Regions from separate parts of the Homo sapiens genome. Here regions 1 and 3 are each linked to region 2. The links come from fine-mapping of genetic effects on gene expression. A gene starts in region 2. Each other region holds a variant in brackets. All regions are shown on one strand. Distances are from middle to middle. Region 1 overlaps NLRP1 (NLR family pyrin domain containing 1). Region 2 holds the start of NLRP1 (NLR family pyrin domain containing 1). Region 3 has its middle 83 kb from the start of NLRP1.

The links. PIP is the estimated chance that this variant, and not a neighbour inherited with it, causes the effect.
Region 1: its variant is the best candidate, but not a certain one, in a credible set for the expression of NLRP1 in whole blood (INTERVAL, PIP 0.59).
Region 3: its variant is the best candidate, but not a certain one, in a credible set for the expression of NLRP1 in gastroesophageal junction (GTEx, PIP 0.80).

Annotation. Positions count from the first base shown.
Region 1 is chr17:5,548,208-5,556,386 of GRCh38, forward strand. NLRP1 (NLR family pyrin domain containing 1) reads right to left here. Exons shown (of 17, transcript NM_033004.4): 5 at 5,179-5,349. It overlaps LOC105371507 (a long non-coding RNA gene), which reads left to right. Exons shown (of 3, transcript XR_007065589.1): 2 at 5,794-5,936; 3 at 6,299-6,391. Among named protein-coding and RNA genes, the nearest start is that of NLRP1, 32 kb to the right of the region's middle. The variant A/T (reference allele first, on the strand shown) is at 4,234.
Region 2 is chr17:5,579,901-5,588,079 of GRCh38, forward strand. NLRP1 (NLR family pyrin domain containing 1) reads right to left here and starts at 4,609. Exons shown (of 17, transcript NM_033004.4): 1 at 3,787-4,609; 2 at 2,770-2,946; 3 at 1,959-2,162. The coding sequence starts at 4,057. RefSeq lists enhancers at 3,947-5,146, 4,418-4,677, 4,698-4,997.
Region 3 is chr17:5,663,579-5,671,757 of GRCh38, forward strand. No RefSeq gene overlaps it. Among named protein-coding and RNA genes, the nearest start is that of NLRP1, 83 kb to the left of the region's middle. The variant T/C (reference allele first, on the strand shown) is at 3,959.

The DNA.
Region 1 (8,179 bases), 32 kb before region 2:
ACTCACTCCTAGCAAACAACTCAATTCCTATTTCTCAGAGAAAAATGAAGCCATCAGATGGGAACCTCTCAGCTTCTCAGAGTGAAACCTATGTTCCTACCTCTCTCTTCCCTGTCCTCATCTCCCCTCCTGTTACAGTAAAGGAGACATTTCCTCCCTCTTCCAAGGCCAATCTTTCTCCTCCCTCCTCCCTCTGAGGATAGAGAGCCATCAATGACTCCTTCTCCTTCTTGTGTCTTTTATCACTCCTCCTCACTGATTCTCAAACTGAGATCTTTTCCTTCTTAAATGCAAGTAAGCAGATGGACAGACACACACATTTACTCAGCCCACCATCCCCTCTGCTTTAGTGCTTTCCTCCTTTTCACTATCAAAGTCTTTGAAGAAAGTATATTTGTGGTCTCATTTTTTACCTCCTTCTCCCTCTTTAATGCACTCCAGTCTGCATTCTCGCCTCTTCATGCCACATAAGGTACTTCTGCTGAGGTTATTCATGACTTTCCTATCACTAATCCAATGGACAAATTTCAGTCCTTATCTTGACCTCCCAGCAGCAGTAGTCCCTGCTGACCTCCTTGAGACCCTCTGCTCTGTTGGGTTCCATGACACCTCTCTCTCCTGGTGTCCCTTTCATCTATGTGGCCCCTCCTTCTCAGGCTTGTTTGTTGGCTCTTCTTTGGCCATTAAATACTGGGGTGGGGGTGTTCCCCAGGCTTGACATGCAATCTTATTTTTGCCCGTGAATTTTAGAATCAGCTTGTCCATTTCTGCAAAAATGGCAGCTGGGATTCTGCTAGGGATTGTGTTGAATCTATAGATCAGTTTGGGGGGTATTGTCATTTTAATAATATCAAGTCTTCCAATCTATGAACATGGGACATCTTTTCATTTGTTTAGGTCTTACATAATTTCTTTCAACCATTTTTTGTAGTTCTCTGTATACAAGTTTTCTTTTGTTAAATTTATTGTTTTCCTAATTTAATTTTTGGATTGTTCATTGCTAGTGTATAGCAGCACAACTAATTTTTGTATATTGATCTTGTTTCCTGAAACCTTGCTGAAATCATTAGTTTTTTTTTTTTTTCTTTTTCAACAGGGTCTCCCTTTGTCACCCAGGTTGGAGTGCAGTGGCACAATCTCAGCTCACTGCTACCTCTGCCTACCAGGCTGAAGCGATTCTCCCACCTCAGCCTCCTGAGTAGCTGGGACTGTGGGCGTGTGCCACCACGCCCGGCTAATATTTTGTAGTTTTGGTAGAGACAGGGTTTTGCCGTGTTGCCCTGGCTGGTCTTGAACTCCGGAACTCAAGCAATCCACCCACCTCAGCCTCCCAAAGTGCTGGGATTACAGGGCATGAGCCACCACACCTGGCCCTAATTTTAATATTTGTAGATTCCTTAGGATTTTCTACATACAATGTCATGTCACCTGCAAATAATAGTTTAATTACTTTCTTTTCAATCTGGAAGCTGTTAATTTCATTTTCTTGCTTAATTACTCTGGATGGAACCTTGAGTACAGTGTTGAATAGAAATGGCAAGAACAGACATCTTTGTCTTATTCCTAATCTTAGGGGGAAAGCACTCAGTCATCCACCATTAAGTATAATGTTAGCTGTGGGTTTTTTTACTGGTAACAACTTTATCAGGTTGATAAAGTTCCCTTTTATTTCTAGTTTGCTGAGTGTTTCCAATGTGAAAAGGTGTTGAGGGTTTGTCAAATGCTTTTTTTGTGTCTTTGAGATAATCATTGGTTTGTGTTCTTTATTCTATTAACATCTTGCATTACATTGATCAATTATCCTAGGTTAAACCCAATTTGCATTCTTGGGATAAATCCCATTTGGTCATGGTCTACAATCCTTTTTATATGTTGCCAGTATTTTGTTATGTAATTTTGCATATATATTCATAAAGGATGTTGGCCTGCAGATTTTTTTTTTTCTCTTGTGATGCTTTTGGTTATCTTAGTCTAATTTTGGTATCAGGGTAATATTGGTCTCATAGAACAAATTGGCACGTGTTCTCTTTTCTGCTATTTTTGGAAGAGTTTGAAAATATAAGTGTTAATTCTTCTTTAAATATTTGGTAGAATTCACTAGTAAAGCCATCTGGGCCTGGGCTTTGTTTCATAGAAAGTTTTTAACTTACTAATTCAATATCTCTATTTGTTATAAGTCTATTAAGATTTTGTATTTCTTATTAAGTCAGTTTAGGTATTCGTGTCTTTCTGGAAGTTGGCTCATTTCATCTGGGTTATCTAATTTGTTGGCTTACAATATTTCATAATATTCACTTATAATCCTTTTATTTCTGTAAGTTCAATTGTGATACCCCATCTTTTATTTCTGATTTTAGTAATCTGAATCTTCTTACATTTTAGTTAGTCTAGCTAAAAGGTGTCAAATTTTGTTGGTATTTTTAAAGAACTAACTTTTAGTTTCATTGGTTTTCTGTATTGTTTTCTATTCTCTGTTTCATTTATCTCTACTCTAGTCTTTATTATTTCTTTCCCCCTGCTTGCTTTTGGTTTTGTTTGCTTTTTAAAAAAATTTCTTTACTAACATGAAAGACCTAAGGAAAACAAATTCTTAAGGTGTAAGTTTAGGTTACTTATTTGAGATTTCTCTGCTTCTTCTTTTTCTTCTTCTTCAATAGACTTTATTTTTTAGAGTAGTTTTAGGTTCACAGTAAAATTGAGCAAAAAGTACAGCGAGTTCCCATATACTCCCTGTCCCCACATCCCTCATACAATCTTTCCCACTGCTGACATGCTGTACCACACTAGTATATTGTGGTGACATTTGTTACAATTGATAAACTGACATGGACACATCATCACCCAAAGTCCATAGTTTACATTAGGGGTCACTCTTGGTGGTGTACATTCTATGGATTTTGATTGCTGTAAAATAATATGTATGAACGATTACAGTATATAGAATAGTTTCACTGCCCTAAAACTCTACTGTGCTCTATTAATTCCTCCCTTCCCCCAAGCCCTGGAAACCACTAATCTTTTTTACTATCTCCTTGTTTTTGCCTCTTCCAGAATGTCATATAGTTGGAAGCATACAGCATGTAGCCTTTTTAGATTGGCTTCTTTTAGTAACATGCATTTAAAGTTTCTCCATATCTTTGTGTAGCTTGATAGCTTATTTCTTTTTAGCATTGAATAATAGTCCATTGTCTGTTTGTACCACAATTTATGAGTCCATTCACTTTCTGAAGGGCAGCTTGCTTCCAAGTTTTGGCAATGATGAACAAAGCTGCCATAAACATTCATGTGCAGGTTTTTGTGTGGACAGAGGTATTCAACTCATTTTGGTAAATATCAAGGAATGCGATTGCTGGATCCTATGGTAAAAGTATATTTTGTTTTGTAGAAAACTGCTAGACTGTATTCCAAAGGGGCTGTCTCATTTTGCATTCCCACCAACAATGAATGAGAGTTCCTGTTTTTCCACATCCTCGTCAGCATTTGGTGTTGTCAGTGTTTTGGATTTTGGCCATTCTGATAAGTATGTAGTGGTATCTTTTCTTTTTTTCATTAATTAAAAAAATTTTGAGTAATTTTTTTAGAGATAAGGTCTGTCTCTGTTGCCCAGCTTGAAGTGCAATGGCATAATCACAGCTCACTGCAGTGTTGAACTCCTGGGCTCAAGTGAGACTCCTGTCTCAGCCTCCTAAGTAGTTATGACAACAGGCACACATCATCATTCTCAACTAATTTTTTATTTTATGTTTTTGTAGAGACAGAGTCTCTCTATGTTGCCCAGGCTGGTCTCAAACTCCTGGCCTAAGGCAATTGTCCTGCCTTGGCCTTCCAAAGATTTGGGATTACAGGCATGGGCCATCATGTCTGGCTCTATCTTTCCTTTTTTTTTTTTTTTTTTTTTTTTTTTTTTTAAATAGAAGTATTTATAACTATAAACTTCCCTTTAAGCACTGCATTAGCTGCATCCAATACATTTTGGCATGTTGTGATTTTGTTTTCATCCCTCTCAAAGTGTTTTCTAATTTCCTTTGTGATTTCTTCTTTGACCCTTGGTTATTTAGGAGTGTGTTTTTAAATTTCAGTGTATTTATGAACTCCTCAACTTTCCTTCTATTGTTGATTTCTAATTTCATTTTATCATGGTCAGAGAATATACTTTGTATGATTTCAGTCCTTGCAGATTTGTTGAGATTTGTTTTATGGGGCGATCTTATCTTTGGATAGAGCTTTATTTGA[A/T]ACCTATTTGGCAGGTCCAGTTGGATACCTTGAAAGGATCTTGAAACCAGCAAGCACGAGATCACACTCATGACATTCCACCCCCCAATCACTTTTCTTTTAGTATTCCCCATCTTGATGAAGATGCCACTATCCCATGAGTTGCTTTGGTCAGAAACCTAAAATCATCCTTGATATCTTCCTCTTCCTTTTTTTCCTAAATTCAATCCATTACTGAGCCCAGTTGATTTTACTTTTATAGCTCTCTTACATCTAGCCACTTTGTTCCATATCCATTGCCAATACCATAGTCCAAGCTATGACTATCTGTGACATTTAAAAGTACTATAATTTTCCTTAGTCCAAACTATTACCATCTTTGCAGGGACTACTGCAATTTTCTTACTAATTGGTTTCCCAGCCTCTACTTTTGCACTCTTCCAATCCATTTTTCATGTTGCAGCCAGTTTCTATTTTGAAAATGTACTGATCTTGTCAACCTTCTGCTTAAAATTCCACACCATCAGGAAAAGACCCAAATCCAACATGGTGCACAAGCCTGGCATAGTCTACTTCCTGTTGGTATCTGTAGCCTTATCTCAACCCTTTGCTATCTGCCCTCCAGCCACACTGGCCTGCTTTCAGTTTCTTGACTGCCTCCTCCTGCCTTCTCCACAGAGCCTTTGTACATGCTATTCTCTTTTCCTGGAACTTTTTCCTTCCTGCTTTGCTTAGTTAAATCCTCTGTATTCTTCAGACCTCCCTCAAACCTCACTTCATGAAGGAATTTTTTTTTTTTATGAGCAAAAAATCCTATCTGTGTTTGTTTACTAAAGTCATCCCGGCCAGAGAAGGCCTCAACGAATATTTGATAAATACAAAGACAAATCCCTCAGCCCAGACTCAGCTTCTGCCTTGGATCTCTTCCCCATCCCTGCTTCAGAACAGAACCCAGGCCAGACTCACCGCAGGGTCTCCAGGAGGCAGCGAGGGCGTCTCAGGGTCTTACAAAGACTCTTCACTGCAGAGTGGCTCAGCGAGTTTCCACTTAGGTCCAGCTCCTTCAGGTTTCTGGTGACCTTGAGGACGGAGAAGAGAATCTGCCAATAGGCATCTGTGACTGGGACCCACCTGAACCTGAGGGGGAGAGAGAAGGACAGGAGAGATGTGATGTGTCTGGCAGGGGTTTGAGGTGCCCAGCCCTGCACAACACAGTTGGGCTTTGTCCCCCTGAGCACCAGGCCACAGCGGGTAGTGCCATCTCCAGTACTGACCAGCCCTCCCTGCCTGTCTGCCCGTCACCCAGGGCTAGGTCCCTCTCCTCCATGTGGCTCCTCATTCTACAGCCCTTACCATAGCACACTGAAGTGTTCACCTTGTGTGTCTGTTTCTGCCTCAGTCTGGGAGTTCCTTGAGGGCAGGGACAGACATTTGTCTTTTTTTTTTTTTTTTTAAATCTGCACTGCTCAGCATAGGGCCTGGCCTCGGTGCTGAGCACTGCAGATAAGAAAAAAATTTTTTAAAAAAATTTGACAATTTTAATTTAAAAAAAATTTGACAGCCTTCCTCCCTTTGATGCAGACACACCTGTGTTCCTTTGGCACAGACATTCTGGAGTCCCAGTGCCCAGGAAAGAAGACGGGAGGCAGTAGCAGAGCCTGGGAGAGATGGCCTGAGGATGTTGTGATGGAAGACTGTATATGATCATATGCACTGCTGTCCAGGTTGGCTCACATGGGACCCTATCCCCTTCCCAGGATAACAAGAGGGTCTGCAGGAGAGGGATGGCTGTGGGGAGTGCCCTAGGAGAGAATATTTGCAGCCTGAGGGGAAGAGATGACGGGCTTTGTCTGAGGGTGTTAGAGTAGACTCCGACTCATGGAATTTCCACCCATTTAATCTGTTTTCACACACTACTTTAGTGACCTCATCTACCTCCAAGGCTTCAACTACTCAAATCTCTATTCCAAGTTTCAGACTGAGTTTTCTATTTTCTGGTTGGATATCCCCACCTTGACATCCCAGTAATTCTTTGATCTAATTTGTCCCAACAAGTCCCCAACCTGAATTCATCTTTTCCCCTAAGTCTGCAGAGCCATGTGGGGGCAAGAAGCAGAGGCAAGGAGCTGCCTGCATGTGGGCTCTGCTTCTCTATCCCTCACTCCGTCTCCTCCGCTGCAAAAAGAGGACAGCAATAGCACCTGCTGCAGAGGGGTATGTGAGAATTAAAAGCTACTAAAGAGTATCCCAAAAGTCCTAGAGCAGTTTTAAGTTTTAATAACTGTGAAAGTACAAGTACTACAAACATATAAAAAAAGCCAGCTGAGTGCAGTGGCTCTAGCCTGTAATCCCAGTACTTGAGGAGGTAGAGGCAGGAGGATCGATTGAGCCCAGGAGTTTAAGACCAGCCTGGGCAACATAGTAAGATCCTGTTTCTACAAAAAATAAAAAAAATTAGGCAATGTGGTGGTGTGCACCTGTAGTCCCAGCTACTCAGGAGGCTGAGGCAGGAGAATGGCTTGAACCTGGGAGGCCAAGGTTGCAGTGAGGTATGGTCATGCCACTGCACTATTCCTGGGAGACACAGTGAGATCCCATCACACACACACACACACACACACACACACACACACACACGAAAAAAAGCCATAAATGAAAGCTTACTTGAATTTCTTTTACACTTACTTAGTTTTGTGAAACTTGAAAAATACATTTTAAATTTTTTATTTCCGTTGGCATTTGCCATCCTTAATCAAGGTGACTGAAAAAAAATTAAAAATTTATACTTGAAAATGCACAATGCTTAATCACATGCCAAACACCTGGAAGCTCCCATCCTGTCATCTTCATTTCTTTAATATCTCTGGTTGGTTCTCCTCTTCCTTCACACAGCCCTTGGCCAACCTCCACCCTTTCTTCCTGAACTTTCTTGTTTTTTTTATAGTAGCTTCCTTATTCTTCTCTCTGCCTTGTCTAGCTGATTCAGTTCCTTGAAAATTTCTCCTCCCACTTGTGGCTGAAGCCTCTGACTTTCCCACGGCATTCTCTTAAGGCTCCACTTGCTCCCGCCCATCCCAAACTCTCCTCTCTGGCCTGGTGTTCTTGGTTCCCTTTGCCTATCCCAGCCCCCATCCCCCGGCCAGCCACCATCTGGTCTCTGCCTCTAGCTGCTTGGAACTCTTTGAAGATTTCCCACCTGTCCACTGCTACTTGCAGTACCTGTATCCAGGTCCTTTAAAGCCTACCTCACATTTATAACTATGAACAACTAGAAGCAGCTTAAAATGGCCAAGAACAGGAGAATGGTCAAATCAGCCATGGCACTTTCCCTATGGAATAGCATGTGGTCATTCAAAATGGTGTTGTATCAGACTACTTAAAAATATATAAAGGGCTGGCATGGTGGCTCATGCCTGTGATCCCAGCACTTTGGGAGGCTGAGGCAGAAGGATCATTTGAGGTCAGGAGTTCAAGACCAACCTGGCCAACATGGTGAAACCCCGTTTCTACTAAGACGACAAAAAATTAGCTGGGTGTGGTGGTGCGTGCCTGTAATCCCAGCTACTCTGGAGGCTGAGGCATGAGAATTGCTTGAACCTGGGAGGCAGAGGTTGCAGTGAGCAGAGATCGTGCCACCGCATGCCAGCCTGGTGACAGAGCAAGACTCTGTCTGTCTCTGTCTCTGTCTCTCTCTCTACACACACACACACACACACACACACACACACACACACACACACACATGAAGGGCTGGGCATGGTGGCTCACATCTGTGATCCCAGCACTTTGGGAGGTCAAGGTGAGCAGCTTGCTTGAGCCCAGGAGTTTGAGACCAGCTTGGTCAACACAGTGAAATCTCATCTCTATACAAAAAATATACAAAAATTATCGCTGCATGTTGGCATGCTCCTGTAGTCTCAGCTCCTAGCGGGGCTGAGGTAAGAGGATCCCTTAAACTCGGGTGGTC
Region 2 (8,179 bases):
GACCTTTTGAGAGTGAAGAGTGGGAGAAGGGTAAGGATTAAAAAACTACCGGGCCGGGCGCGGTGGCTCACACCTGTAATCCTAGCACTTTGGGTGGCTGAGGTGGGTGGATCACCTCGGATCAGGAGTTCGAGACCAGCCTGACTAACATGGTGAAACCCCATCTCTACTAAAAATACAAAAAATTAGCAGGGCTTCGTGGCGGGCACCTGTAGTCCCAGCGACTCGGGAGGCTGAGGCAGGAGAATGGCGTGAACCCGGGAGGCAGAGCTTGCAGTGAGTGGAGATCACGCCACTGCACTCCAGCCTGGGTGACCGAGCAAGACTCTGTCTCAAAACAAAACACAACAAAAAACAAAAAACAACAAACAAAAAACAAAAACAAAAACAAACAAAAAACCCAACCTAACAGGTACCATGCTTATTACCTGGGCGACAAGATAATCTGTACACCAAACACTTGTGACACATAACTTACCTATATAACAAACCTGCACATGTGTTTCTGAAACTAAAATAAAAGTTTGTTGTTGTTTTTTTTTTAAGTTCCCTATTTGAAGAATTCCCTTAGAATTTAGAATCAGGGAAAAATGTTATTTCCCTTGCATTGGTCTTTTCTATTGAGTAACAGGTATTGTGTAACCCATTATATTTCCCCTTTTGCCAGTGTTGCTAGAATGCCCACAATTGATGGAAACTTTATTTATAGCAATGAGGTAGTCTTTGTGGTTTTCATACTTGTTTTTTTCACTTTTAAAGTTACTGCATTTTTATGCTTCTATAGATGGCTCTGATATGTCTTTATATTCTTCCTATCTTCCTTCTTTTCTGTTTTTCAGTTTTAATTGTCTTTATTGTTTGGATTTTTTAATTCACAAAATAATTCTGAGAAAAAGTTATCTTTGTGATTCTCAAATATAGAAAGAAACAACTTAAAGTATTAGAATCTTCCTTTCTTGACTTTCTGTTTTCCTTAGTTTAACTCGAATGTTGATCTTTCCTTATATACCCTATCAAGATTTTTAAAACATGAGTTTATTTATTTTTTATTTTAGACTCACGCGGTATATGTGCAGGTTTGTTACATGGCTTCTTTTTTTGAATGGCAAGTGGTGTGAGTAATTAAGTAAACTGATATACTTTGAGCCTAGGCCATATACGACCACAAAATCTACAAGTTCACTCCTTGCTGGGTGCAGAAGAAATCCTTTTAACTTAAAACCTCTCAGATTTCAAAGGAGGCATCCTCCGGCATTGAGAGGCAGCATGGTTCAGTGGTTAAGGAACCTGTGGCATCAGGAGCCTCTGTACCTGTGGCTTTAGTATGACTGTCCTTATTGCCCAGATGAGGGCACTCCCTGTGTAAGAGTTAAAAGTGTGGATTGCTGCGTGAGAGAGAGTGAAGGCTGAATTCCATCTTTGCTAGTACTAACTGTGAGACTATCTTTTTAATCCTTGGTTTTCTCATCTCCAGGGTATGATAATAGCAATATTTATCTCACGGAGTGGTTGTAAAATTTAAGTCCAATGTACACGTAAAGCCCTGGACATGGTCTAACCCAGAGAGTGTCCAGTGAGCACTGATGGGCATGGGACTAGCTGTAGGCCACTTGTGGGGTGAGGAGCTCAGTGGAAATTGAACCCAGCTCTCCTGACCCCAGGCCAGTGCCCTGTCCAGTAAACCAGGTGATGTGTAACCCCATCCAGGCTCCCCTCTCCTTGCTCTGTTGTCCCCCAGATGTGCTGGGTAACACATCTGTATTTTAATGTCCAGGTGCCTCCTGGAAACAGTGCCTTGGACCAGTGGAGAGGCTCCAAGGGTGGGATTTCCTGAGGGAAATTTCAGATGTTTTCCAGAACCTCTGCTTAGCCTGCCAACCTGGTCCCCAGGGGACTCTTTGTCCATACATTTGCCTCTCCCACCTCACCACCCCGCCAGGAGCTCAGTAGGGTCTCACCTGTGTAGTAAATTCCTGACGTTTCATCCAGAGGCCATTGGGTCCCAGGAGCCTCCTGCTCTCTGGGTGCTAGGCTGGGCTGAGGTGGGGATCCCCAGCTCCCCAGCACTGCTGTGGATGTGGGGGCGTTGGGTGACTCCTGGCTTGGAGACTCATGGTCTGGGGAGCTTGGAAGAGCTTGGTAGAGGAGTGAGGCAGAGATTTCTGGGGGGAATGAAAAGAAAAATAACCATTTACTGAACATTTATTTTCTTTTAGGTGCATATATTTTAAACTCTCACAACAGTCCTGAGAGATGGGTCTTAATAATATTATTTTGAAAACCATGTTGAAGTAGAGGGGCAATTTTATTCTCTTAGTAGTGAAGAGAGAAGTCATGTGAGGGAGCTGGCTTGGGCCGAGGACTAAGCCTAGCCTCTTCTTGGGGTCTGTCTGGAAAACAGAGTCCTCCTTGGAACTTCTGGACCACCCTGACCCTAAGGATCTTCAGAGCCCATCAATATTATGAGCTGAGTTCTCGGGCAAGGACCATGTCACGAGTTGGGCACCCAGTTGGGGAAGACTCATTGCCTGACCCACATGGGTCTCAGCTTCCCCATCTGCCACATGGGGAGGGATGCAATCTCAGCACCGGAAGGTCCCTGAAAGATCAATTTCAGGCCTACCTCTCACAGCCCATCCTGGCTCCCCTATCCTTCCTCTGCTGTCCCCCATGTCAGGTCCCCATGCACAGACATGATCCTCTGGGTGGGGCCCACCAGCTGATTCACAGCTCCACCCAGGGCTGTCAGCCTGCCTCAGCAAGCCTCACCTCTCCAGCGGCGTCCAGATGTGTCAGGCAGCTGTCTCAAAACCCTTCTCTCTGAGCCCTGGGTGCACCCCGCCGGCAATTCATGGATCCAGGGCATTAGCACTGCGGTGGAGGTGGGTTGGCTGGGAGACCCCAGGTGGGGTTCACTTGGGCTGTAGGGGAATGAGGGAGAGTGGCCTACAGGAAAGAGACAAAGAGGTTGGAGACACATCAGAGGGGCAGGGGCAAGGTGCCAGGGAACTGAGCTGGTCTCCTCTCTCAACCAAGAGAGGTCAGGATACACCAGTGAACCCGCTGCAGCCCTCTACAACTTCCTCTAGAGGCTTGTCTGAAGAATGATGTTCTTATAGATACTGCTAGGCAAAAAATCCTCATCTAGGATCAGGAAATTTGCATATCTGTCTTGGTCCTGACTATCTCCCTGTGTAAATCACTACTCCTACTGAGCCTCAGCTGTGCTTTATTGGGCCAACGGCATCTGCAACCCAGGGTGGCTAATAGTAATAATAACAGCAGCAGCAGCAGCAGCAACAACAGCAATGGGAGATCTTATTTATTGAGCACTTACTGTATATCAGACTCTGTGCTAAATGTTTAACCTGGATGATCTCTTTTAACCCTCACACAGCCCAGGGAGGCGGGCTCTCACTCTCCCATTTTGCAGACAGAGAAATAGGCAGAGAGCAGTGAAGTGATTGGCCCAGGGTGATAGTGCCAGGACTGGTGATAGTGCCTGACTCCCAAGTCCGTGCTCATAACTACAATGCCAGGCGAGTACCGGGAATGCACTTGAATAGAAGAGGGTGTGGGGCTCTGAGGTGCAGCAAGGGCCCCCCCAGCAAGCCTCCTGGCTCCAGCATAGTCTGGGGCCTGGATCCCCCTTTGAGAGGGCAGTTCCATGTCACTGCTCAGAGGAAGGCCTGGCAGGGAGGGCTCAGTGGTGGGGTCCCAAGAGGGCAGGGCAGGCATGAGGGCCAGGGGATGTCCCGCGGGCAGTGGGGTCCTCTGTCCACTCACCTGCCCCTTCCTGGGCTTGGGCGCACAGTGACCTCAGCCCCATCTGCTCCCAGGTATGGAGGGCTAGGTCCCAGGCCCGCTGCTCCCCATACTGAGCCACCAGGTACGAGGCCACCTCCATGCCACTCGTCTTCTCTGGCTGAGCGGGTGTCTCACCCGAAGAGCTCCTGGAGTGCGCTTTATTGGCGAGCAGAAGCTGGAACTCCTTCAGCTCCTCCTTCTTCAGGAACTCCAAGTAACAGGCCAGGCGGCCCCAGGCTCCGCCAGCCATCTCTGTCCCGGAGTTAAGAGGGTGTCTGGGGGATGTTCCCAGGTGGTGAGGGTATCAGGCAGGCAGAGAACAGTGCTGTCCTTTGCCTTGGCTCTTACCGTCTCTTATTCAGCATTCGGAACCCAGTTTTATAAATCCCAGGGCACCTACAGATAGACGCCGATAGAGGGGGAGTGGTAGGAAAAGCCAGGGGAGGGAGGAGCCCAGAGGGGCCTGCAAGACACTGGAAGAAGTCAGCTGATAGGGAGGTCCTGGGATGGGGTCCAGGGCCAGGCAGGGAGGGTGAGGGTGAGGGGAGATGTGGTGACGGGAGATGGGGTGTGGGCAACGCTCACTGTTCTGTGTTCCTCAGATTCTTCCCTCTCCTGGGTCCTGGACTCCTGAGATCAACCCTTGAGCTGCAAGGCTGAGAAGAGGTGGGGTGGGAGGAGCCGCAGAGCAGGGAATGGGCTTTCAGAACCCAGAGTGGAGCCCCGGGCTGCTGGCTCCCAGGTTTCTTCAGACCTCTCCAGGCCCTGGGGCACCAGCCAGCAAGAACAGCGCCTAGTCAACAAGAGCAGGAAGGAAACGTCACCCAGAGGAAACCCACAAGGGGCGTGGCCAGGGGGTAGGATCAAACCAGGCCTGGGTAGGCCAGACTCAGAGTCACAGATTCAGATGGGCCACATGGCATCTATAGGCGGACCAGGAGCACAGGCCCAGACCAGCTGACGCTGCAGCAGGTACAGGCCCATACTAAACACGGTGTGTGCACCTCCACATGGGCACTCCGCCAGCCCATCATCTAGAGCCTGTCTGCAGAGCCAGGATGCAGACTCTCCGAGCAGTTGTGTCTGCAGCCCAGGCCCAGCCTCTCAGGATGGGTGGGGCCCCCTGTGTCTGCCCGGGCAGCTCCTTATTGGGAAACATTAGAACTGGGCCAGGGAGCATTTTTCCCAGCCTCTCATGGTTTTGGGAGCTTCTTGAGTTGCACTGCATGTCCTGCCATGCTACCAGGGGCACTAAAGCATGTGTCCCAGGCCCAGGGGGCTGTTTGCCTTCTGGGCAGCCCAGCACTTAGCTGGTGAACATTTCCACCTGAAAGCAGAACAGCCCCTTCCTCATTCCTGCAAGCAGGCCTCGGGGAGCCAGGGGCAGACTTCCTCTTTCGTGGAATCTGCAAGATGCCAATGACTTCAGGTTGAGGAATGACATTGCCTACTCATTTGCTGATGTAACACACCACCAGGAATTTCTGGAGATGCTTTGGTTTCACTTGGACTGGCAGAGCCCAGGCTTCAACCCACGGCTTGCTTGGACAAGGACTCCTTATGTGCCTGATTTATTTCTTTGAGCCTCAGTTTGCCCATCTATTAAATGGGACATCATAGGTTTACCAAGAGGCTTCAATTCAGCAAAAGGTCTTAGAGTCTCTCTCTCTTTCCCAGGCTGGAGTGCAGTGGCAAGATCTCGGCTCACTGCAAGCTCCCTCCACCTCCTGGGTTCCAGCGATTCTCCTGCATCAGCCCAGCTTCCTGGGCAGTTGGGATTACAGTCACTCACCACCACGCCTGGCTAATTGTTTTGTATTTTTAGTAGAGATGGGGTTTCACCATGTTAGCCAGTCTGATCCGAGGTGATCCGCCCACTTCGGCCTCCCGAAATGTTGGGATTACAGGTGTGAGCCTCCGTGCCTGGCCTAAATAAATTTTATAAATGTTAGTTTTAAAAAATGGCTAATAAGCACATTGTAGGACATTCTAATATCAGATTGACCAGAAGTGGAAAAGTGCTGTGCTAAAAGTGGGATGATCGGGAGGCTCTGAGCACTCCGTGAAGGACCGTGAGACTCCATGTAGCGGGAGGAATGGCCTGGAGGAGGGCTGTGTGGGCTTTTTTTCCTCCTCACACCAGCCAGTTCTGGCACCAACTCTCTAGACACCAACTGGTGTCCTACAGTGCAATTCTGACACTGACTGCCTGGAGTTGGCATCAAACCTCACAGGTTTAGGGTTTCAGTGAAGAGCTGGCCTCATATCAGATGCCAGTTGCAAATGGGGTGCCCAGACCACTGGCATCTCTGTCTGACTTGGTGACAAATTCAAGGGTTCCCACAGTCCCCGGCAGGTTCAATAATTTGCTGAAATGACTCACAGGACTGAGAAAAGCACTTTATTTATTATTATCGGTTCATGATGGAGGATACGACTCAGGAATAGCCCAACGGAAGAGATGCCGAGGTCAAGGTGTGGGTGGGGGAGGGGCACAGCGCTTCCTTGCCCTCCCGGGCACCCTACTCTCCCTGCCCCTCCCTGCTTCACTAACCTGGAAGCTCTCCAAACCCCAAACAAACAAGACTGTGGGGTTTTCTCGGAGGTTTCACTTCACAGGCATAATTCATTAAATCACTGGCCGCTGGAGATCCACTCAACCTGTTAAATAGATCAGAAACCTGACCCTTCCCACCACGCCCACTGGGGCTGCTGGTCCAGCCTTCAGTCGTCTCTTACTGGGATCACTGTGCTAGCCTTCCACATGTTCTCCACCCATGCTGATGCTTCCCCTTTACTGTCTACTCTCAGTCTAGAAGCCAGAATTATCCACTTAAAGCATAAATTAGGTCAGGTCACTTCTCAGCTCAAAACTTTCCCATACTCCATCTCACTCTGAGTAAAAACCAAAGTCCAACCAAAGGTGTGGTGACTCGTGCCTGTAATCCCAGCACTTTGGGAGGCTGAGGTGGGAGGATCGCTTGAGTCCAGGAGTTCAAGACCAGTCTGGGAAACATGGCAAGACCCTGTCCCTATGACATAATATTAAAAAACTTCCCAAATCCGGCCAGGTACAGTGGCTCATGCCTGTAATCTCAGCACTTTGGGAGGCTGAGGCGGGCAGATCACCTGAGGCCAGGAGTTCAAGACCAGCCTGGCTAACATGGTGAAATCCCATCTCTAATAATTATAATACAAAAAAAATTATCCGGGTGTGGTGGCGCACGCCGTATTCCTTCAGGAGGCTGAGGCAGGAGAACTGCTTGAACCTGGGAGGCAGAGATTGCAGTGAGCCGAGATTGCACCATTGCACTCCAGCCTGGGCGACAAGAGCAAAACACAGTCTCAAACCAAACCAAACCAAACAACAACAACAACAACAACAACTCCCCAAATCTCCCAGAGCCCTCCCAATGGTTCCCGGGGGCTGCATGATCTAGCCCCTGATATCTCTCCGGCATTATATCCTACCCTATCCCCCTCCCTCACTGGATCCTCTTAGTCTTTTCCCTGTTCCTTGAATACACCAAGAATACTCTCACTCCAGGGCCTTTGCACTAGTCTTTCCATTGTCTTGGAATGGTTTCCCCAGATATTCAGAGGTGTGCTATCCAACCTTCTGTAAAGTAGAATTCCTTCATTCCGTGCTTCATTTTTCCGCATGACACTTATTATTGCCTGACGTTACAGACTTGTTTATTTGTTTACCTTCTGTCACCCCCTCCTGCCAATAGGATGTTAGGTCCCTGGAGACAGGACTTGGCTTGTTTTGTTCGCTGTTGTATCCGCTATGCCTAAATCAGTGCCTGGCCCACAATGTCAGCACAATCAATACCACAGACATTGAATGTCTTTTGAACGCTTTCCTTTAATGCTTTCCTTCTTATCCTTCCAAACAGCTACTCACTCTGGCCACTAGATGGCACTCAAGTACTTTCTGAGAATTGAAGCAGCCTCATGGGTTTGGTGGAGAGGACCCACTGGCGCTCTCTGAGCCTGAATTTTTAAAATTATCCCTGTTTCTGGTGCTTTGGGCCTTTGTTTCCTTTCCTTGAGGCATTTTAGGAACACATTAAAACTCACTTTTATTCAAGTCATGCTATTTTCAATTAAAACTTAACTCATGAGGAATATCTGTATGGCCAGTACTCCAGCAGAGTACAGTGAGGCCTTCTCTTTAGGTTCAAATTACTATGACTTGAATCAAGATCTGGATAACTTGAAATCAGCCTCCTTGAAATTCCTCTCCTCCCACCTATTTCTAAGCGTGTCCCAGGCATTGCCTCATGGGGTTCTGAAGTCAGTTCTTGGTTCCCCTCTGATCGACTGGTCTTGACTACCTTGCTGCCGTCCCTTTGGTCTCAGACCCCAT
Region 3 (8,179 bases), 84 kb after region 2:
CCCTCGGAACCCGTGAGGATGGCAAAAGCGACTTTCCGGATATGATTAAGTTAAGGACCTCAGGATGAGAGCGTCCTGGCTTATCCAGGTGGTCCTAATGTAATTATAAAGGTCCCTGTAAGAGGGAGGCAAAGGTTCAGCATCAGAGAGGAGATGCGATGACGGAGGCAGAGGCTCCAGTGAGGAGCTTTGAAGGCGGAGGCAGGGGCCATGAGCCAAGGAATTCAGGCAGTATCTATAAGGCTGAAGAAACAAGGAAACGAATTCTCCCCTACAACTATCAGAAGGAGTGCAGCTCTGCTGACACTTATTTTAGCCTGTAAGATCTGCTTTGGATTTCTGACCTCCAGAACTATAATCTGTCTGTGTTATTTTAAACCACTAAGTTATAGCAGCAATAAGGAACTAACATGAGAAATCAGGAGAGCTCAGGCATGGGGTGGGTGGGTGCCTGGGCTCTCCAGGCACACCAAGAGACTCACACCGTAGGCAGAATGTGGAGACAGATCTGGGAGCTGGAAAGGGCCTCAGAAGTAGGCTGGGATCAGAACAATGCTAGAGGTCTCTGGAGGATGGAGCTCAACAATGTTTCAGAGGTGCTAAGATCCTAGACACAAAGATAGGGGCTCAGGTATGAGGGACTAAGACTTGAGGATGGGGTACAGGGTGTGGCTGTGGAGAAAAACAAAGGAAGGGCCTGCTTCTGATAAGCTCAGCTTGGTGCTGAGCTGTGTGCTCTGAGATTTGCTCTCCTTACCTGCAAAACGGAGGTCTTGGCTAGCTCAGAGGTCACAGACTGGAGGCTATAGGCTTGATACAGCTCACAGACGTGTTTAGCCTATACTGGGTTTTTAAAAACATTTGGATGGGTAAGCCATGGTGGCTCCCGCCTGTAGTCCCAGCACTTTGGGAGGTTGAGGTGGGAAGATGACTTGAGGCCAGGGGTTCCAGACTAGCCTGGTCAACATAGCAAGCCCCTTTCTCTATCAAAAACAAAAACAAGGCCGGGCAAGGTGGCTCATGCCTGTAATCCCAGCACTTTGGGAAGCCAAGGTGGGTGGATCACCTGAGGTCAGGAGTTCGAGACCTGCCTGACCAACATGGTGAAACCCCATCTCTATGAAATATGCAAAAATTAGCCAGGAGTGGTGGTGCACACCTGTAGATCCAGCTACTTGGGAGGCTGAGGCACGGGAATCACTTGAACCCAGGAGGCGGAGGTTGCAGTGAGCCGAGATCACGCCACTGCACTCCAACCTGGGCAACAGAGTGAGCCTCTGTCTCAAAAACAAAACAAAACAAAACAAAAACAACAACAAAAGACATTTGGACCGGTATTTTAAAATCATTAGATTTCACATATAAATCCGATGTTCTGAATTTTATCTTAAAATATAGGGTGATCCGGCAACAATTGGACCTATACTCCTGCCTGTTTCAGAGCCTCCTAGGCAATTCCAGCTGGAGGTGGAACGTTCCCAGGTGAGGTAGGCCCTGCAGACGTGGGAGTGGGGTCACTGTCACCCAAAAGGAGGAGCATCGGCTTTTTAGACCGGGGCCTGAGGAGCCCCCAAGGGAAGTGTCTGAACCACGCAGGTTCCTTACAGTCTTGAGCTCAGATTTAACTTGACAAGTGCTGAGTGCAGCGGGACTCTTAGCCACATTGATCCGGACACTAAACTCCTATTAATGTAGTCAGAGAAAGCAATTGCTTTCTTGGCAGCCACATGCGGCTGGCGGCTCGCACAGACCTTGCAGTCAGATGGAGACACCAGGACCGCCCCGTGGGAGCAGCTGTGAGCTAAGACTTCCGCGCCTGGGTATCCAGCCTCAGTGCAGGCTTCACGCTCTGGCTCTGTCAGTGTGGACTGTCACTTTAGCTGCCAGCCTTTCCTGTGAGTGGCATCCTCAGCTGTCCCCTGCACTGGCCCCTTGGCATTTTCCTAACCCCTACACAAAAGGGCAGCGGGATCTTGGCTAGGGGGCTCAGAGCAATGCTCCCTGCTCCCCAATTTGGCCTTCCCTGCTAACATCCCCTTCCCTGGTGTTCTGACCCTTTTTGGCTTCCTCCCTCAGCACATGCAGGCCCCCCCCCCATGCTCTGTTTTGGATGTGTCTTCCTGGTGCTCCCTCCTCAGGCTCACTCCAGTGGACATGATTTTGCTTCTGACCTCTGGACTTATGCACCTTTGCCAGGCCCAACAGCTTCTCCCTTTTTCGTGCTATGTGGGGACTGTGACGGCCAGGACCCCTTCCCAGCCCCCGCAGCGCCCCCCTCAGTCACCAAAGTCTGTCTTTTTTACTCTCTGATATCTTCGAAGTTGTCCATTTCTTTCACCCCCAGTGCCATGCGTGTCCAGCCCAATCTCTCACCTGGCTGCTCCCAGAGCCTCTGACCTGTACTCCCTGCCTCCAGGCTTTTCGCCTCCAGCCCACTTTCCAACAGCAGCCGGAGAGCTCTCTTCAGAGGACAAACCTGACCATGGCAACTCTGTCCAGAATCCTTCAATGCATCGTTCCGGATTTCAAGATGAAGCCTGAGTTCCAGGCAGTTCCAGACTTGGCCCCGGTTCTCTCCTCCAGCCTCATGGCTCCCCGCATCCATCCCCCAGTCCATGTTCTGGCCATACTGGTCCATTTGCAGCACGCTTGCTTCCTCTGAAACTTGGACTTTTGCACACGTTATCCTTTTTGGCAGGAACCCGCTCTTACCCCACCCCCTTCCTCTGGCTAACTCACCTTTCACATATGATTATGGCTTCCCTGCCACCCCACCACCCCCAGGATAGGCTTCCATCTCTTGCTCTTATGAGACCCACCTCCAGTCATGGCACTGGGTAACTGGCCTCCCTCAGTGATTACTGCTTACTGAGTTATCTGTCTTTCCCACCAGACTATAAACTCCTTCAAGGCGGGAACTCCATCTGTTTTGCACCCCATTATACCCCCACCGCCTGGTGTAAGGCTGGGAGTAGCAAGTGCTTGATGAATGTATATCGAATGAATGAATGATAGTGATGATGAAGCCAAGAGCAAAGAAAGCCCACGCAGGCAGAGACTTTTCTCCAGGTTCATCCAGAATCATCTTTTTTTTTTTTTTTTTTGAGATGGAATTTCTCTCTTGTCGTCCAGGCTGGAGTGCAATGGTGCAATGTTGGCTCACTGAAACCTCTGCCTCCCGGGTTCAAGCAATTCTCCTGCCTCAACCTCCCAAGTAGCTGGGATTACAGGCGCCTGCCATCACGCCCAGCTAATTTTTGTATTTTTAGTAGAGATGGGGTTTCACCATGTTGCCCAGGCTGGTCTCGAACTCCTGACCTCAGGTAATCCACCCGCCTCAGCATCCCAAAGTGCTGGGATTACAGACGTGAGCCACCGCTTCTGGCCCAGAGTCATCTTTAATTGCCTCTCTCTAGCCACACCCCATGGAAGTTGAATTAGCCGGGTGAGCAAGGAATCGACTGTAGGAATCTTCCCAACTCTAGCAACACCTAGTCCCCATGTCTCCACCTTGTCCACAAAGATGACGTGGGAGATGTTGCCAACCGCCTCACTGAATCAAGTGACATTCCTTCCACCAGAACAGGAAATGAGCTTGATTTGGTATAACAATTGTCAGAAAACACTGAGTTTGTCTGATTCCAGAGATCAGCTTTCTTAACCACTGTGCCATCCTACCTGAAAGACAACTGGGAATCAGTCTGGAGCTCACTTCCCACAGGACGGGCTAAAGAGTGGTGGTCCAACAGGCAAAGATCTGAACTCTAGTCCTCGTTCTGCCTTAGGGAGCTGTGTGACTTGGGGCAAATCTCTAACCTTCTCTGGGCTTTCATTTCATGGGACCTAATCCACAGGGCTGTGGTAAGGACTCATCTTTCATTACTTCAGGGCTTATAAAGGGCAGGGACCAGGCTTCTCTATGTGGACTTCCCCATTGCTCAGCACAGGGCCTGGCCCA[T/C]CAATAGCCCTGAAAATATGATCATTAAATTGAAAAGCTCTTTGCGGACCCCTTTCTAAAATTCTTCATCAGTCAAGCACTTGAGCCGGGCAGGGAAACCCACTCCATCCTCACTAACTGGACAATTGCCTCATGTCACTGATGGGTGTTATTTTGTCCTCTGCTATAATGCATGTCTTTTAAAAAGAAAATTAGGATCTGTCAAGCACCATTACACAATGAACCCAGCAAAGGGGCAGCCAAGCTTCCAGCCAAGCAGAGGCCGCAAGTGGTATGGGGAGCAGTTGTCTAGAGCTGCTCATTGCCGAGGCAATACTCCACATGGAGGGTTCCCTGCTTGGGAAGTCTCCTTCTCCTCCCAGGTCCCTGCCCCAGAGAGGGGAGTGGGGAGAGTTTGATGTAATTTTCTGGCCTGAGAAGCAAAATCCGCTTCTGAAGGCACTCAGGCTTCCATGCCTGCCCACGCACTGGAGATTTGTACCAATGAGAAGGACCACAAGGAAGGCTGGAGCTGGGCACCCTAGTAGGGACGGCTCCTCCTAGTGTTCAGTTTGCACCTGGTAATGTTTTGGCACCATCCGTCTACTACTAAGAGGGAGGTCTTTTTTCTAGATGAGGAAACTGAAGCTTGGAAAGAGTCCAGCCCAGAACGAGGTGAGTGTGACCCCAAAGCCTGTGTTCTTTGCAGACATTGTGCTGCCTGCCTTCCCCTGAGGTTCTGTGGACCACGGATGGGGGAAGGCTAGCAACAGAGTGAGTATTTGGGATCCTATGCACATCGGGAGGAGCATAGCCTAGGACTTCCATGGGAAGACACGTTTTTTATTTCTCACTGCGTTGGTTGGTTGCTGTCAGGAGCCACCTTTTGCTTGACCCGCTCAGATGTGACAGACAGTCCTGTGGTGGAGGTTGAAGGATGGCACTTTAGACGCTTCATTCTCAGTGGCCTCCTAAGCAACTGAGAGGTCCTCACCCACCCATGCTGCTTCCAGGGCTGGCCCTGCCCTACACTTTGCTATTCCTTGTTTTTTCCTCCTAGTCTTCTCCCTCGTCTTCCTTCCCCTCCTCCTCTTACTTCTCCTCCTCTTTCTCTTTCTCCTCTTACTCCTCCTCCTCCCTTCCTCCTCTTTCTTCTCTTCTTCCTCCTACTCCTCCTCTTTCCTTTTCTCTTTCCTTGCCCTCTTCTTCCTTTTTCTTCCTTCTCCTTCATCCTCTTCTTCCTCTCCTCTTCCTTTCCTTTTTTCCTCTGTCCTCCTCCTTCTCCTCTCCTCCTCCTTCCTTCCTTCTCCCTCCTCTTCTCTTTCTCTTCTTCCTCTTCTCTCTTCTCCATCTTTCCTCTCCTTCACCTCCTCTCTTTCTCCTTCCTCTCCTCCCTCCTGCTCCTCCTCGCTCCTCCTCCCTCAGACAGTGCTCACAGCTTCTCACCTGCCAGCACATAGAACTGGGAGAAACCAGAGCCAGCCTCACATGTGGGGGAATAAATGCTGAGCTGTGACAATCCTGCCTGCCTCAGAAAGAGAGGTTTTATATAGTTTTTGGCATTTACAAATCCTTTGTGAAAAGGTCACCCTGTTCTTGGAATCTTTTATTAATGCTGAAGACTGGCCCCGGAAATGTCATGTCTTTTTACCATGATATTTACTCAAAAAAGTATGACTAACCATCGGAAATTCTACGAGTGGCTCGACCCAGGTCAGGCTGGGTGAACCTGTGGGGGACAAATGGATGCTGAGCTCGCTGGTGTTGTTGGGCTGCACCTTCCCCTGAGCCCTGAGTGAAGGGAAGGAGGAGCATGCCAGGGTCAGGTACCTGGGCACCCATCTGCTCTGCATGGCTCTCTGCTGTCCCAGTTCCTCAGAGGCTCCAGAGCACAGACCAGCACTCCAAGCTGGAAGGGACCTTGTGTGTACAACATCCCAACTCATCATTTTACAGAAGTGGAGACAGGCTCAGGGAGGGGAAGACACCTGCAGGGTCACCCAGCAAGTCAGGGACAAAGCAGAGACTAGAGATCAGGTGTCCCGATGTCCAAGTCAGTGGCCAGTCCTGACTCTCACTCCTGCGCTGAGCCTGAGAAGAGGATGGGGGCTGGGTGCGGTGGCTCACGCTAGTAATCCCAGCACTTTGGGAGGCCGAGGCAGGCAGATCACCTGAGGTCAGGAGTTTGAGACCAGCCTGGCCAACATGGTGAAACCTGGTCTCTACTAAAAACACAAAAATTAGCTGGGCATGGTGGCTCACGCCTGTAATCCCAGCTACTTGGGAGGCTGAGGCAGGAGAACCGCTTGAACTCAGGAGGTAGAGGTTGCAATGAGCTGAGATTGTACCACTGTACTCCAGCCTTGGCCACAGAGTGAGACTCCGTCTCAAAAAAAAAAAAAAAAAAAAAAAAGGGAGGGGATGGGAAGTCCTTCCTGTCCCTGCATCAGAGTCCAAGGCAGTAGGGTGCAGAGTGAGACATGGGCGTATCCCTCACCTGCCTCCCTTCCATCAGCCTGGAATTCCCTTTATGTCATCCTACTCCAGGTTACATAGCACAGAAGCCTTTTCTCAAAACCCTGTTGCCTTTCTAGACAGTCCTGGAGGGGCTTGGGACAGGAAGAGGTTAGAGCCTACCTTATTGTCTTAGTCAGCTCAGGCTGCCCCAACAAAATATCACAGATCGTGTGGCTTCAACAATAAACACTTATTTTCTCACATCTCTGGAGGCTGGAAGGCTGAGATCAAGGTGCCATCATGGCTGGGTTCTGGTGAGGGCTCTCTTCCAGGCTTGCAGATGGCTGCCTTCTGCATCCTCACCTGGCCTTTTCTTTGTGTGCATGCAGGGTGAAGGCGAGAGTGAGGAAGCTCTCTCCTTAAAAGGACACCAATCCCATCATGAGGGTGCCATCTTCATCACCTCATTTAACCGTAATCACTTTCCAAAGGCCCCACCACCAAATACCATCCCATTGGGGGTTAGGGCTCCAACATATGAGTTTTAGGGGGACACAAGCCTTCAGTTTATAGCACCTACAATTTCACAGGGATCATTTGGAGAGGGTGAAACAATGGATGTGAAATTAGTGTGTAAACTGTAGCTTGCACACCCGTATACATTTTTATTATTATTATTTTTGGGAGGAAACCAGAGAAGAAAGGAGAGCACAATGCAGCCTGCTCAGCTTCTCAGAGGAGCTCGTTTGGAGAGGAGAATGAGCCTCAGGCAAGGAGACCCTGGGCAGGGGGAATGGAGAAGACATCTGCTGTTGCTCCCCAGCACTCACTCCCTTCCTTGGCCACATTGTCCTCCAGCCTCATTTCAATGGTCTGAATGAATCATGAGGCCAGGGCCCCAGCCAATCACCACATCCCATTTCCCTGGCCACAGTGATTGCTTCAGCAGTGGGAGCTTGACCCTTAGATGTCTAATTAGTGTTTTAAGGACTTTTGTTGGGACTCACTCTTCTGTGGTGGATTTGAACCTGGAAGGATAGTATCTCAAGAGCTGCTGCTACAGCCACTTGTGGCCAGAGGGGCCATCTGGCTGTGCCCACTGGAAGACATAGGTGAGAATGCACATTCTTATGCAGTCTTGGTCTTCATGAGGGCAGGTGTTTGGTTTGTATGCCAAGTACAGTGCCTGGAACATAGAAGTACTGATAAATATTTGTTGAATAATACATATTTGAGACCCTGGATACGGCCATGCCTGGAGCTAGCTCTTTCTGAACTCCTTCTTTTACTTAAGCCAGCTTGATCACTTGCCCCTAAACAGCCTTAAGTCAAACAGGGCATGAGGTTAAAGGCAAGAGCCTGGAGAGGTTAGGGCGGGGTAAGGGGCTGCTCTAAGGCTGTGCAAAGCCCAGGGCAAGGGGCTGCTGTGGACTGGTCTAGCTTTGGCTGTGTAGACGCAGCCTGAAATTCAGCGTGGGGGTCTCTGTGCATGAGGGCTCCTGGTCATGCACTGGGCACAAGGAGGCCTTTTTGCCCTTTGAAGGAAATACAAGGTCCCAGTGCCCCCTACCTGAGGTGGCCCTGCTCTGGTAGCTGCAGAAGAATCATTGGTGCAGAAATCAAACCCTGCCATGGCTTAGGCCTCAGACTCTGCCATGAAAAAACTCCCTTGGCCATTAGGGTGCTTTCGAGAGTGTGGTTGTTCAGCTTATCCCCTCTCCATTGCTGGACACAGCTCAGGATGCAGGTCAGGCTGTTTTAAGGGTGAGGTTCCCTTCTTGTAAC